Linked DNA regions of Homo sapiens. The protein of the gene in region 2 interacts with the protein of the main gene of each other region in a biochemical or structural test. Each region holds a gene or a part of one and is shown on either strand. Other genes may lie near its edges.

Region 1 (7,364 bases), on a different chromosome or scaffold from region 2:
CAGAGGCGAGAACAGTGGTGTGCAGGGGTGGGTGGAGGGGATAAAGCACAGCAAAGAAACAGCACTGGCCTGTGTGGTCCAGAAACCCGAGGCCCCATTCCAGCTTTCTTCTGTGACGAGGACACGACTCCTCCCCTCCCTGAGCCTCAATAACTTCAACTGCTAAAGGGGAGAATCCTAACTGCTGGGCCTGCCTCTCACAGTTGTCAAAAGGACAAAACAGAGTAAAAAGCACTCTGCAAGTGGAAAAGTGTCAGGCAAACATGAAACATGGTCAGGATCACCACTGGGGCGGCGGGGGGCGGGGGGCGGCGTGCTCTGCCCCACTGGGTGTGCAAGGCAAGGCGTTATGCAAAGGGTGGCCTGCTCCCTAATGCCCCAGGCCTGGACCCCCATGTAGGGGTGGCCAGTAGCCCTTCCCAGGCCTTAGCGCACTGACATTCGGCGCTCGCACCTCCAGTCCGTTTCACAGATGTGGGCGATTTGCGGAAGGCCATGCTGCTGATGGTGACCCAATGTGAAAACCTGGGCTGCCTGGCTCGGCCTCCTGCTGTCCTCCTAGAATCCTATCCAACCTTGTTTCTGCTCAGGACTGCATGGGGGTGCCACACAGTCCTGGTATTTCTTGAGCAACTACTACATGCAAGGCATGGCCTTGCCAGCTTCACAGGTTGGTTGCTGGAAGAACTGAGATGACAGATATCAAAATAGGTAAGTCAGTAATAATTCCTATCATTATTGCTATCACCGCCATCACTACCATGGATGGGAAAGGGGACAGGAAAAGAAGACCATCTCGTTTCTCAGGGTTCTGACACCTGCAGAGCCAAGGCGGCGCCCCATCAGAAGCAATGCATTCTGGGGGGAGATTACCCGAACGCAGACAGTTCCAGAAAAGGCCCCGCCTCACAGTTGCAGAACTCCATCCTGCAGGAGGGTCTCGAGGCTGCAGCCACCAAGGAGAGCCGTTTTGAGCCCTAGAGGCTGACTCCCCCGTTTCCTCCCTCGTGGGTTTGTCATTTCTGAACTCATTTCTGTACTAACCGTCACTGCTCCCTGGACAGCCCCCAGCTGACAGTCAGTCTGGTTCCTGTTTTGAGAAATCTGATTGCAAATGTCTTAGAAAAAAAAAGGCCCTAACGGCCTTTTCAAAATGCAGACCAATTTTCCTCTCCCAGGCCTGACGTTCAGTCAATCCAAACACCCAGTGAGCAGGGCATGGCACAGGGGGGCGGTGAGGGCCATGGGCATGGGGCACCCCTGCAGCGTCAGCCAGAGCTTAGACGGCTGCTTCAAAGGCTGAGGGACACCGCAGAGTCACAGCTCTTATTTCACGCCATCCACATTTCACAGATGAGAAGACCGAGGCCCAGTGAGGGAAGAGACTTACCCAGAGTCACAAGATAAGACCACGGCAGTGTGGACAGGCCCCATCCCCAGCCCGCTGGGGCACCAGGAGGAGGCCAACTCTCAGGCATGCACAAGGAGTTGCCACACGACACAAAGAATCGTGGCGGGCACGTCTGCTCCCTGGCACAGGCCAGGGTAGCTGATGAAATGTAGAACCAGAAGTCTGAAGCCCTGATCTGTTGGCCAGGTGCCACCTGGGACTACCTGTGTGACTCGGGGCAGGCCACTCACCTCTGGAGCTTCAGTTTCCCCATCTGTTCCACAGGGACAAAACCACACCTGTCCTCGCCACCCCATGCGCTGCTGAGAGGCTCACACAGTGGAGAGATACTCTATCAGCCATAAAATGCTGGACAAACCGCAGCAATCGTCCACATCCTGTGTACTTTTGCACCTACATCCTGAACAGTCTAAACTTTGATACCAGGTGTGATGTCAGTTGTCTTACAGAGGCGGCAGCTAAGGTCCAGCCATTGCAGGTGTGCTGGGAGGGCCCCTGGTCAACAGCACCCACGGGGCACCATATGCAGGGCCTGCCAGAGGAGAAATGTAGGGGAGAGGGCACAGGGGATGTTTCCCCGACCTGAGCGCGGTCCGAGGGGGAGGGTGCCCGCAGCACCCTAGGTCCTGCTCACCACGCCGCCCTGAAAGCACTCTCGAGCCCAACTCCAGGACAGCGACCCCACCAGAGGGTGGGAGAAGAGTCCGGAAGACTGGCTGTCCCCCAACACCTCACACAAGTGTAGACTGGAGGAGAGACGGGTGGGGGTAGTGGAAACCCTAAAGCGAGTGCCGTGAGCAGGGACAGCAAAAGGGTGGGTGACATCGTCAGGCGAGGTAAATGGTGGCCAGCGGAGGGGAGGGGACCCCACAGGGACCAAGGGCTGCTCCGAGAAGGATGAAGGGGCGCGCCGGGCCCCCGTGGGAGAAGGCGGGAGCCAGGGGCTGACAGCGACTTCGGGGGGCCGGTGGAGCACGATAAGGAAGCAGCAGGGCGGCCAGGGGGACCCGACTGGGTCCGGGGACCGATGGGGCAGAGGAGCTCCGGAGTTGGGGCGCTCCGGGCTCAGGCGCCCAGGGTCTGGGGCTTAGGGTCTGGACCCGCAGGCGCCAAGGCCGGGCTGCTCCGGGCTGGGGGGCCGACAGGGGGTTGCGAGAGCCGGCCCCGGGGGTCCAGGTCGCGGGGTCGAGCATGGGGCCAGGGTCTCGGGGCCGCGGCCGGGGCGCCCGCGGGGTCGGGCCGGGGCCGCGGGCAGCTTCTCCTCACCTGGGCTCGGGCAGCAGGATCTTCTTGCTGGCGCGCGCGGCCGGCGTGGCCTTGCTCTTCTCCATGGCCATCAGGTAGCTCACGTCGGCCAGCACCGCCTCCAGGTCCGCCATCTTGGCGGCGGCGCTGCCTCCTCCCGCCGCCGCCGCCGCCGCCGCCGCTCCTGCTCGCTCGGCGCTCGGCCCGGCCCGGCCGCGGCTCGCTCGGCCTCGGGCGCCGACGCCTCCCGCCTGGCCCTGCTCGGCGCCCGCGGCTCCGCTCGCCGCCGCTCACAGGCGGCGCCGCCCCATGGCGCCGGCTCGGGCCCGGCCCCGGCTCGCGCTCCGCTCCCGCCGGGACTGCAGTCGGGGCGCCGCCGCCGCCGCCGCCCGCGCGCCCGCGCCCCGGAGCCGCCGCCGCCTCCGGCCCCGCCTGCCGCGCACAACGCCAGCGAGCCCGCGAGGGGCCGAGCCGGGCGGGCGACGGCGCCCCCTGGAGGCCGCGCGGAATCTGACCCCGAACCAGACCTGCGACCGCGGGCTCAGACCCTGGCCGTGACCTCGGCCCTCGATGCTGGACGGAGACCCGGGCCTGGAACACGACAGGGACCCGGCACGGAAGACGACCCGAGACCCATTCTCTGACCACAACCTCGGGTCACATCTCTGGATCCCAGGCTCCCCAGTCGGGCCGCAGCCCTGACACCAAACGTGATCACAGGGAACCTGGACGCTCACCAAGACACAGATTCAGACCTCTGAACACCATCCTGGGACTTTCATCTCAGACCCTGGCTATAACCCCGGACTCCCTGACCTTGGACGCAGTCCACGACCTGACACCAGACTCCAAACAGGACCCCAGACTCAAACCTTGGCCCACCACCTCAGACTCTAACCATGACCTCAGATCACAGCCCTGGGTCTCCAACGCCATACCCAGACTGCGACACTCACCTCAGACCCCCAACAGGTCCCCAGATCCAGATTTTGGACCATGACCTCGATCCCATCCTGGTTACTGACCCCAACCTTGATTCTGACCCTAGGCTACTACCATGACCCTGAACTCTAGACTTGGGGTCAGGACTCAGACCTAGATTGGACTGTCAACTCCAGATCACTGTCCTAGACTCAACACCCAGAACTGTGGACACGGACTCAGGACTAGGACGTCTAACCTGGGACCCACACTGGACCCAGAATCCTTAGTAGGTCACCCAGAACCTGGGACCTGACAACTGCAGCGCAGTTACAGGCTTCCCCCATCCCTGATCCCACCCCTCCTACTCTAGAACCAATCCTGGCCGCAGAAGGCCCACTCAGGATCAAGTACCCTGCACCCAACCCCACCCCCCAACCAGCTCATAGACCCAGGTCCCTGGCCAGCACTCTTGGCAGCTCCCTTCCCTGTACCCCATCCCATCCAGATGTTCCTTCAGGATGGTTCCACATGTAGTTACGGTAAAAACTCTCCCAGCCCGGAAGCGCACAGAGGTTTCAGTGCTGCCTGGCAGGGGAAACCCACCCTGCTGAGAGCCCACCCAGAGTGGGGAAAGCCAGGTGTCTCAAGGCAGCATTCCTATCTCAACATGCCCCTCTCTAGAGCCTCTCTTTGCTTTCAAAGTGACAGGACCCTCCTCCCAGCCCTGGGCACATAAAGCTCAAATCTCATTACCATGCTGTGGGCCAGCAGCCAGCATCCTTTTGCAAAGCAAGGCCCCCATCTCTGTGCACCTCTAGGCTACCATCTTGGATCAGCCCCAACAGAACCTGGAACCAGAGCATGTCAGAGCTTGTGAGGTTCTCCTCTCAGTGGGTGGTGAGTCACTCGCCACCCATATACCCATGTCAGAGCCTCAGTTTTCTTTTCCCCAACTGCTCCTTCATTCTCTCCCCTTCTCTAATCTAATTTGTCACCATAGTCTCCTGTCTGGCCTCCTGAGAATCTCCGTGAATCTGTCTACTTCTCAGGGTCCTCATGGCCAGCCACTGCCCTGATGCAGGCCCTGACCAGGGATGCTTTTCCCAAATCTAGATCTGATGGAGTCACTGCCTGCTTGGCACCCAGAAGCAGCTCTCCAGGCCTTCTGGGGCTACTGAGAGTGAGAGACCTAGAGGGGTCTCTAGGACTCACCACACTCTGCCCAAAGCAGATTAGGTGAACAAACTCCTTAATCTGCAAGTCAAGATCTTGGAGGACTTGGACCTTGAATGCTCCAGTTTGTTTCGCTACCATCCTCTGCACCTGGAGTTTCCCCACCAACTCACCCACCCATTCTCACTTCTGTGCCTCTGCTGTTTCCTGGGCCTGGAAGCCCTTCTGTGTACCTTCCTCCGTGGACAACTCCTACTCATCCGCTAAGACTCACCTCCTCCAGGTAGTCTTCCCTGACTCCCTGACCCCAACTATGTACATCTCCAATTCTACACTTACCACCTTCTAGGCCCTGTTTTCCATTTTCAGTTGCAAGATGCATTGTTGCAAGTTTCGACAGTGGGGAGTGAAGCCTCGTTACATGTCAGCATCAATTGGAAAATGCATCCTGATGTTGGAAATGCTGATATATATATTTAAAGAGGACATACTGTCCCCCACTGTCACTGGTGCCCCTAGTTCATCCTTTGCTCCCAGTGCCCACCACAGGACCCGACTCAAAGGCATCAGTGTTTGATGAGTGAATGAATGAGTGAATGAGCTCTTGGAACACATGGGTTTTGGGGTGGAACAAGGCCAGATGCCACAACATGAAGCCTCTAACCTCCTCTCCCCACAGCCCTGTCCTGACTCCTCTGGACTGCGAGCACAGCCACATGTCAGCCAGGGTTTTCGGGAATAGCCTCTATTTTAAAAATTCTACCTGATGAACTTGTTGGACCAGAGTCTGTGTGTGAGTTCTGAAATGCCAGCCATCCTGTTCCAAGAGGTGGCCTTACCTTCCCATCCCCACCTAAAAACTCAGTCCCTCCCACCCACAGCCCAATCCACACCCCCTGCCAGGCCTGAAGCTGGGGTCTTTTGAGGGGGGCTGGTCTCCCTTCATTGATTCCTGGGCCCAGGAAAAGTGACTTCAGGAAGCTCCAGGTTCAGAAGAGGTTGGTGTGAGCCCTAGGCCTGGGGAAGACTGGTTTTGGGGACGGTGTTGCCTCTGTTGGTCCTAGGAAGGTCGATTGCAAACTTGCCTTCACAGGCAGGCCTTCCTTCTCTCAACAAACCTTTGTTCTGTGCCTAGACTGCTCCAGGCCCTGACCAGGATGCTAGGAGTGCAAAGTGGAGTAGAGCCCCATCTCTGCTCAGCTGGCAGCCCCACAGACACATCATTACTTGGCATCGCCACTGGATGACTAATAGATGTTGCAAACTTAGCGCGGCCCACACTGAGCTCTTGCTCCCACTACCCAGCCCCTGTCCAACCTGCTCCTCTCCCGCCTCCCCATCTCAGGCGTGGATCCTCCATTTTCCCAAAATGTAGGAGCTGTCCTCGATTCCTCTCTTTCCTCACCTGGCCCCCACCCCGATGTATACCCCTGCTGTCATACAGCATCTCTGGCGTATCTGTCTCTGAAGTACATCCTTGATCCGTCCACTGTGCCCTGCTAAACCCTGGCCCGAGTCTCAATCACCTCTCGCCTGCATGCCTGCACCAGCCTCCTCTCCGCGCGCCCTGCCGTTCCTGTGGGTTGAGCTTCTATAGATCTCCATCAAAGCCCACCCCCAACGACTGCCCCTGCACTTAGGATAAAATCCACCCCACTTCCTGTGGCCCATGAGACCCGCACAGACTGGTGCCTGCCTATCTCTCTAACTCAGCAATTTCCATTCTTCCCCTTCCTCTTAGTCTCCAGCCTCTCTGGTCTTCCTTCTGTCACTAGAACAAGCCAAGTCCATTTCCACCTCTGGGGCTTTAACTTTACAGTTCCCTTGCCTGGACTGCCCTTCCCCACTTCCGGAGTGGCAGGCTCCTCCTCGTGCTGCCACCTTGTGGGCGGAAGATATCCTGCTCAGCGGTCTCTCCCTTGGCATTTCTGTCCTGGTCACTGCTGCACCCCTCATCCCCAGCACAAAGTAAGGGTAAGGGCTGCATAAAGAATCAAGACTCAGTGTTAGCCCAGTCTGGTGGGGAAGAAAACCCCTAAACACATATCTCCAATTAACCTGGCAAGAGCTATAGTTTAAGGAAGTGAGGGCACTCGGGAGAAGGTCAGGGGAGGGGTCGGGGAGGGTTGGGTAAAGTCTTGAACATGACATTGTGTGCATGAGCATGAGAGAGGTTGGAAGTGGCACGTGCCAAGGCCCGGGAGTGCGAATTTTGTCCTGCTGAGACCTCTCTTCTCCGCCTCCAGCCTGGGCTTTGCAGAGCAGGAGGGTGAGCTCGGGGCTTCCTTGACCTCAGCAGGTGTGTGCCAGATTGACCTGGGGACACTCCTCCCCAACATGGACAGCCATTCCTCTGATGTCAGGTCCCCAGACAGTGTCAGGCTCTGGCCGGGATGCTGGGAGTTGATTCATTCACCCGATTATTTGACAGTATTTGTTGAGCTCCTACTACATGCCAGGCACCTGTACTTGGCGTTGCGGATCCAACACGGGAAGACACAGGAGGGGAGCTTAGAGGCAAACCATACGTGATAACAGCCGCTGACAAGTGTTGGGTTCTCCTTATGTGCAGGGCACTGCAGAGCCCAGCTGATCTCATTGAAAGCGGGAA
Region 2 (7,627 bases):
TGTATCATCAGTAAAAAAAAATTTACTCTGGAAATATGAGCTTTAAAAGTCATAACTGAATTCTTGTTCCTAGTGAAAAGACATCCACCTATCCAAGTTTGCTATTATGACATACAGATATTCTTTTTTTTTTTTTTTTTTTTTTTTTAGAAAGAAGGTTGAGACAAGAGCACAACTTTTAATACAAAATAAAAAGAATTAAGTGGCATCTGGGACAAAAAATTAGGGAACTAAAATAATTCAAAGGAAAGAGAAAAAGTCTTGGTCATGTTTGCCAAGCTTTGAATATTAGACCTTGCTTTTTTCCCAGAGATTGTCAGTGCACGCTGGTTGTGCAATATCAACCAGGATTAGGCAGGTGTGGGAGCCACAGAAGCCACTCCACCACACTTTTAAGTCATTTCATTAGAGTCGCCTCAGAAGTCCTGGTGAGACAATCCTAGGAGTCCTCTTTGGCTGTCTTGCTTGATATTCTCAAGCAAGTCCATTCTGCTAGACGCCTGCATCTGGGTACTCCTCCCTTTTTAACTCCAGTCCCCACAGGGTCATTTAAGAAAATGTATGCATGTTTCTGATTCATAACTATATTATGATGATTATTCTTATAAACCCTTTTGACGTCTAAAAGCCTTAGAGCCACTCAACAGTCCTGTTTGGGCCAGTCTCCTGGAATATGAGAAAAGATGAAGAATGGGAGTGTTATGGAGGGCATACGCCCCTCTGATCATCACCACAAAGAGTGGAGCCCTTCATGGTCCCAGCTGAAAGCCTGGAGAGGCTGCGCGCGGTGGCTCACGCCTGTAATCCCAACGCTTTGAGAGGCCAAGGCAGGTGGATCACTTGAGCGCAGGAATTCAAGACCAGCCTGGGCAACATGGCAAAACCCCATCTCTACAAAAAGTACAAAAATTAACCGGGCGTGGTGGTGGGTGCCTGTAGTCCCAGATACTCCGGAGGCTGACGCAGGAGAATCGCTTGAACCTGGGAGGCGCAGGTTGCAGTGAGCCGACATCTCGCCACTGCACTCCAGCCTGGGGGACAGAATGAGACTCCAACTCAAAAAAAGAAAAAAAGAAAAAGAAAGCCTGGGGATATTTACCAGGACCCTTCCTCCTTTTCAGGCCCTAGATTCTAAGATCCTGCTTTGCAGATCTGAAGTGGGACCCAGGAATCTTTAACAAGCTCTAAGCCTGCCGAGTGCCTGCGATTGCAGGCACGCGCCGCCACGCCTGACTGGTTTTGGTGGAGACGGGGTTTCGCTGTGTTGGCCGGGTCTCCAGCCCCTAACCGCGAGTGATCCGCCAGCCTTGGCCTCCCGAGGTGCCGGGATTGCAGACATACAGATATTCTTTTACTTGTTCTGGAGAAAATAGAATTTTAGAAATTCATAACAGCCATCTTTTTTAAAGTATCTGTTTATCTTGTAAATATACATATTCCTGTACATATTGTTTGAATTCCATTACAGACATTATTATGAATGGTTCATATATATTTTGATAATGACTTATATAATATCAAATCCACTTATAAACATAGTATTTGGGCAGAAATTGTCATGATGAATTAGATGATCTCTAAAGTTTTTTCTAGCTTTAATATGAGGTGATTCTAAGTAGCAGGTACAATGGACAATATGTGTGTGTGTGTATATATATATATATATATATATATATATTTAAAATGGACTCTATAGTTAGAAGCTATTTTTGCAGTTAATAAAAATACTCCATTGCAAATCAATTACTGCACTCATTTTCATGATGCAAACTGTAAGGTTTATTAGTAATAATAATAACCTCCATGGAAACAAAATAGAAAAAAAAAAACCAATTGAAAGAAAATTTTCACTGAATTTAAGAAATATCAACAAACTCTGTGTTCTTTTCTTTTAAAAACATTATTTCTGTTTCATTAAATTTCTAAAGTAACCTTTCAAAACAAACATTATTTCTACTTTAAAAATTAAAAACCACCAACAAACCACCGCCACAACAACATACTACTAAGGAAAAGCCTCAAAACATGCCTTAGCGCCGGATGAATACAGCAGTCCTCACTTATCTGAGGTTTTTCTTTCTGTGATTACAGTTACCCTTGGTCAACCTTGGTCCAAAAATATTAGATGAAAAATTCCAGAGATAAACAATTTGCAAGTTTTAGATTTGCAGTGTACTGAGTAGCTTGATGAAATCTCACACTATCCTGCTCTCTCTGGCCTGGAACATGAAACATCTCTTTGTATACCATATCCACACCATATGCATTACTGTCTTGGTTATCAGATTGACTATTGCAGTGCTTGTGTTCAAGTAACCCTTATTTACTTAATAAGGTCCCAAAGCGCAAGTGTTGTGATGGTAGCATATTGTTATAAAGGTTCTATTTTATTATTAGTGATTATGGTTAACCTCTGACTGTGTCTAATTTATAAATTAAACTTTATCACAGGTATGTATGTTCAGGAAAACAACATAGTATACACACAAGGTTCAGTTTTATCTATGGTTTTAGGCATCCAGTGGGGGTCCTGGAACATATCCCCCTTGGATAAGGGGCAACTACCGCACTCCTTTTCCAACTTGGGAGCCAGATCTTCAAACATAAAGTGCAAGGACTCATCATTTATTCTCTTTAGTTCTCCCTTCACTCAAAGGAAATTTAAAATTGCAAAATGAGTTCTCCATTCATGGTCTTATTTTAACAGTCTAGAATATCAGGCTCAAAATTGCGTGTTTACTCTGAATCTGTATTAGTGAAGATGACTGGTGGAAATCACTGAAAGAGAGAAGGATACGCTGTATTTAATTGTCTTTATAGTAGATAATTCAAAACCTTATGTACTTTGAACTATTTTACATTAACACAATAATACATAAACAGTGAATCACCATTCTTTCCCCTAAGGTAAAATTTTTAAAATTATATTATCAAAAGGACTACTTGTGGACTCACAGTTTGGATCTCTGTGCCTGGTGTCCTTGTTGAGTGGGTGAGAATCCCTGTCTACTGAACTCGTCTTGAACTTCAATAGGTTTAAGCTCAGATTTAAAATCTCCAGATATTGATGACCCTTGCAGAAATAGCTCTGAACAAGTAATAGGATTGACAGAATTAGCAAGGCCAGTTCATTAATAATAAGGCAAAACCAAACAAAGAGTAGTCAGTTTATATTTTACAGAACACATTGAATAGATGAGAGACAGAGGTCATTATTAGTACTATTTATCGCAATAACATGAGTTGTATTCATTAGTCCCATAATCATCTACTGAGCACCTACTTTGTGTGAAACAAGCAGTAGCTAGGCACTAGGGTACAAAGACAAATAAACCCTATTTCCTATATCGTGAGGCTTGCAGTCTAGTGGGGGAGACAGGTAAGTAAAAAGATAATCACAATGAAGTGCTATGATTACTACAACATTGGGAGGAATAAGAGAGATACTATGATTTTCATCTTCTCTTACTACAGGCTTTTAATACAATTTTTTCAGATGGGCTGTCTTTACAGATCTACTTGCTTTCTGGATTCTAGTTTTATTGGCATTTTCTCCTTTTCACTTCTCCTTATTGTTTCTGGTTTTTACCATTAAAAATTCCTTTCCTGCTGTTTTTTAATGGAGTTTTGAGATGTAGGGGAAGTAGATGCATGTGTTTAATCTTCCATCTTTTCCTAACATCTTTCATCCTCACAGCCAAATTCTCATCTAACTTTGCCAAAGTAGGAGATTTAATTTACTCTAAGCTTAAAACTGGAAATTTTTAATTAGCAAGAGGACAAAATTTTTAATATTAATGGCAATTAAAATGAACACATTTAGATTTTTAAATTATAAGGTTTAGTCATATGTAGCTTCACCCAGAAACTTTAAGTGGATCTTAATGCAATTTAAACAGTGATAGTGTCTAAATAAATTTTAATAGTTATGTTTTATTATACTAAATTAATTTGTCATTTATTTACTCTTTGTTAGTAAGAGGGAAACCTGTCACATTTCAGAACTTTGTTTGCTTATATATTTTTTATTGTAGAATTTGATTTCAAGAATAGAGAAGAGTACATAAAATTTACAATATTTAAGAGAGTCACAACCATAAATATTTTCAAAGAGATTCTTCCAGAAATCAAAGTATTTTCTAAATTAACTTTCATTTTCATCCTTAAATCAAATTTTTACCTCCCATTTAGCAGGTTTCATGTTCCAGTTTGTGTGCTATACATATGCTTTTCAACAGAGTTTCTCAGGGCAATTCACTTTCAGTTTTTATGAACTGAGTGTTTTCTCTCTAGCTAAAGAATCTAGAATGTAGTCAGGTGCAATACAAATGTAACTTAAAAGATGCCTTCTGATGGCAAATGTGAAGAAATTTAATATTTCAGTTTGATGATAAAAAATGTCATAGTGGTTTTAACATTCAAAAAATATGTTTTAAGTTACTGTCAAATATAGCTTGGTACTCATATGTTCAAATATGTAATATAGGCACAAGCATAGAGACTTAACGGTAAAAAAAAAATTACTATAGCAATTCCTATCCTACCCCCACCTTCCCAACACAGATATTTCCATAATTTGCTTTTTATTTTGTGCTATCTCTGGCACCTGTTCACTGGAGGGATTTGGGGTCATTACGGACATCACACACTTGCCTACAATTTGGACAAGCATATCTGATCTAATTGCTTCAATTATGAATTGAGTAATTTTTGTAGATCATGAAAACTTGTCAAGAGTCAAAGCCCAAAAGGTCATTATTTCACACATATGATTCTTGATTGATGTAAAAACATTTAAAAGTATTAGAATTATATGTTGATATAGTGTTTAGATTTTTATATATGATTTTACATCCAATTTTAAGAATACTAAATACTTTACAAGGCACAAACATTATAAACCAGCTGAAAATAATCTTAGAAAACAGAAATAAAAATATTAATAATTAGGACACTTTCTGAGTGCTCATCATGCCAGGTCAGGTACTAATTGTTTACTTCGCATAATCTTTACAACAATCCCCTGAGGTAGGTCAAGTATAATTTTATAGATGAGGAGACAGGCTTGGATAAGTTTTATAACTTATCTAACTGATGCATTTATTCCCCAATATTAGTGGAATGCCTACTGTGTGAAAGCACTCTTCTGTGGACAAGGTACTTCTATATACAGCAGCAAGAAAACAGTTTTTATGTTTCAAATGTTGACATTATGTCCATGCAGACCCCAGCGTTCGAATTCAGGTATGACTTAATTCCATGGTCCACACTGTTAACCAGTAAAGTCTCCTGTTTAGGGCAGATTAAATTACCTGCTCTAAAAAGATGAAATTACAGAATTTTCTTTAAATCCTAAACAGCCTTCAGTGTAGATTCTTCTGGTTCCAAGGCTGTCATATATATCTACTTGCTCTTTTTTTTTTTCTTTTTGAGCGTGAGAAAGTTAATTGTAAGGACAGAATTGAAAGAAAACCATGAATTCCTTAGGAGTTCAAGGACAGCTATACACTCTAGTCCTAGGAGAATGGAATGTCAGCTCAAAATCTTGGAGGATACAATGCTGGAGTAAACACCTTAGCAGCTGGGAGGGGTCTGTTGATCTTCCCAGTAGGGCTCAAATACCAAGATTGCGGCTTTCCATCCCACTAACCGCATGCACTGCCTGCCCCCAACCCTGCTCCTCCCGCCGTGGCTGATCTTCTGTCACTAGTTAATACTCTTCCTAAGGCCTTCCATATCACCTTTACTTTACAGCCTGTGCTTCCTCAATATATATTTTCTTATTTGTTCTGTTTTCCATAACCCCCCTCATGGCCTTGACTCTACTCAAGACACCTATCTATAGAAGTTTTTTAAGCCTCCCATCTATTGATAACAGCTTGGCTATTTCCATGTTTCCAAATGAGTATTCTGGGAGAATATGATTTGTTTAGCCGAAACCATTTTGCTTCATTATGCCATTGGCATAATTTGGCCAAGGTCACACCCTTGGTCTAATCAGCTTTAGCCAGATGGCAAGGTTATGTGATCTACATAGGGCTCCCTTTCAGTAGGGGCTGGGGAACTTTTAGTAATAAAGGGTGTAAATGAAGCAGGCGCTGTGGCAGACATCGTTTTTACTAAAAATAAACCTTTCCTTACTTTGAACTTGAAAACATGTCCCTCAGTCTTCAAATAGCAGAATTAAATTTAGAGCTGGAAGGGCATGTTTGGAAACAAGACCATACTGCTGAAAAGACTTACCAGAATGAGATAGTCCTGTAATTTCTTCTGTTTAGGATTTTATTTCCCTTTTCCAATATGCGTTCTACTCTTTCTTGTCTGAATTTTATTCTTCTTGGTTGAGAAGAGGAAAGCAAGGTAAGAATTCCAGTTTCTCTTTCTCTTAGCAATTTATTACTCATGTAAAGAGGAGACATATCTTCCTTCATTGTCTTCTTACTATATGCATAATTTTAAATCTTTTCAAACATATTTTTGAAACCTATTTTACTTTGGATTATAGTATTCTTAATTTTATTTTATCATATTTGATTGCATACCCTTTTTTCTACCTTTTTATAGTATCCTTTAACAAATCATATGGGCATTCACTGAGATGTTACACCATCAGCCACTTTATCTTTCTCCTTTCCTAAAAATATGTGGAGATAGTTATTGTCAGAATTTTATTATCTCCTGATGTTATTTATTTTAGAGAGTCTTTGGCAAAAGAATATATAACTTTTTTTTTTAAGAGAAGGGGTCTCATTATGTTACCCAGGCTGGCCTTGAACTGCTGGGGTCAAGTAACTCTCCTGCCTCAGCCTCCCAAGTGGCTGGGATTACAGGCACCTGCCTTCTGTAATGCTTATTGCCTTCTATATATCTGTAGCACTTATTCTTCTGTAGTCAGCCTTCCTTTTCTTTTATTTTCGTAGCTTAAGTCCCTTAGTTGTTTCCTTTTGAAGGTTTACAACACATCCTTGTTACCGGCTGGTTATTTTTTTGCTGGACAGAATTAACTCTGGAGTAGCAATTTAATGTTTTATCCTCCATCTTTTGAAAAATATTGTCAAAAGATGGAGGATAGAACATTATCCTCCATCGTCAAGAAATTTTTATTTGTACTGAAGGAAGCTTCCATGATAGTCCATTTGGTTTCACTAGATACAAAGGAATACCTGAGGCTGGGCAATTTATAAAGAAAAGAGGTTTATTTGGCTCATGGTTCTGCAAACTGCACAAGAAGCATGGCATCAGTAACTGCTTCTGGTGAGGCCTCAGGAAGCTTTTATTAATGTCAGAAGGCAAAGGGGAGCTTGTGTGTCACATGGTGAAAGTGGGGCAAGAGAGACAGGAGGGAGGTCCCAGACTTTTTAACAACCAGATCTCATGTGAACTCCTTACTGCTGGGAGGGCACCAAGCCATTCAGGAGGGATCTGCTCCCATGACCTAAACACCTCCCAGTAAGGCCCCACCTCCAACTTTGGGGATCATATTTCTTTCTTTTTCTTTTCTTTTCTTTCTTTCTTTCTTTTTCTTTCTTTCTTTTTTTTTTTTTTTTTTTGACAGACTCTTGCTCTGTCATCTAGGGTGGAGTGCAGTGGTGCAATCCCAGCTCACTGCAAACTCTGCCTCCCAGAT

The links.
Region 1: of the proteins of PDC (region 2) and GRK2, one has a biochemical effect on the other in vitro, tested with the Homo sapiens proteins (one study listed by BioGRID).

What each region holds. Positions count from the first base shown.
Region 1 is NC_000011.10:67,262,126-67,269,489, reverse strand, and holds the start of GRK2 (beta-adrenergic receptor kinase 1), read right to left. Parts: upstream 3,018-7,364; 5' UTR 2,791-3,017; coding exon 2,678-2,790; intron 2,295-2,677; exon of another isoform or gene 1,665-2,294; coding exon of another isoform or gene 1,642-1,664; intron 1-1,641. UniProt on the Homo sapiens protein: Specifically phosphorylates the agonist-occupied form of the beta-adrenergic and closely related receptors, probably inducing a desensitization of them. Key regulator of LPAR1 signaling.
Region 2 is NC_000001.11:186,458,104-186,465,730, forward strand, and holds the start of PDC (phosducin), read right to left. Parts: upstream 3,012-7,627; 5' UTR 2,956-3,011; intron 1-2,955. UniProt on the Homo sapiens protein: May participate in the regulation of visual phototransduction or in the integration of photoreceptor metabolism. Inhibits the transcriptional activation activity of the cone-rod homeobox CRX.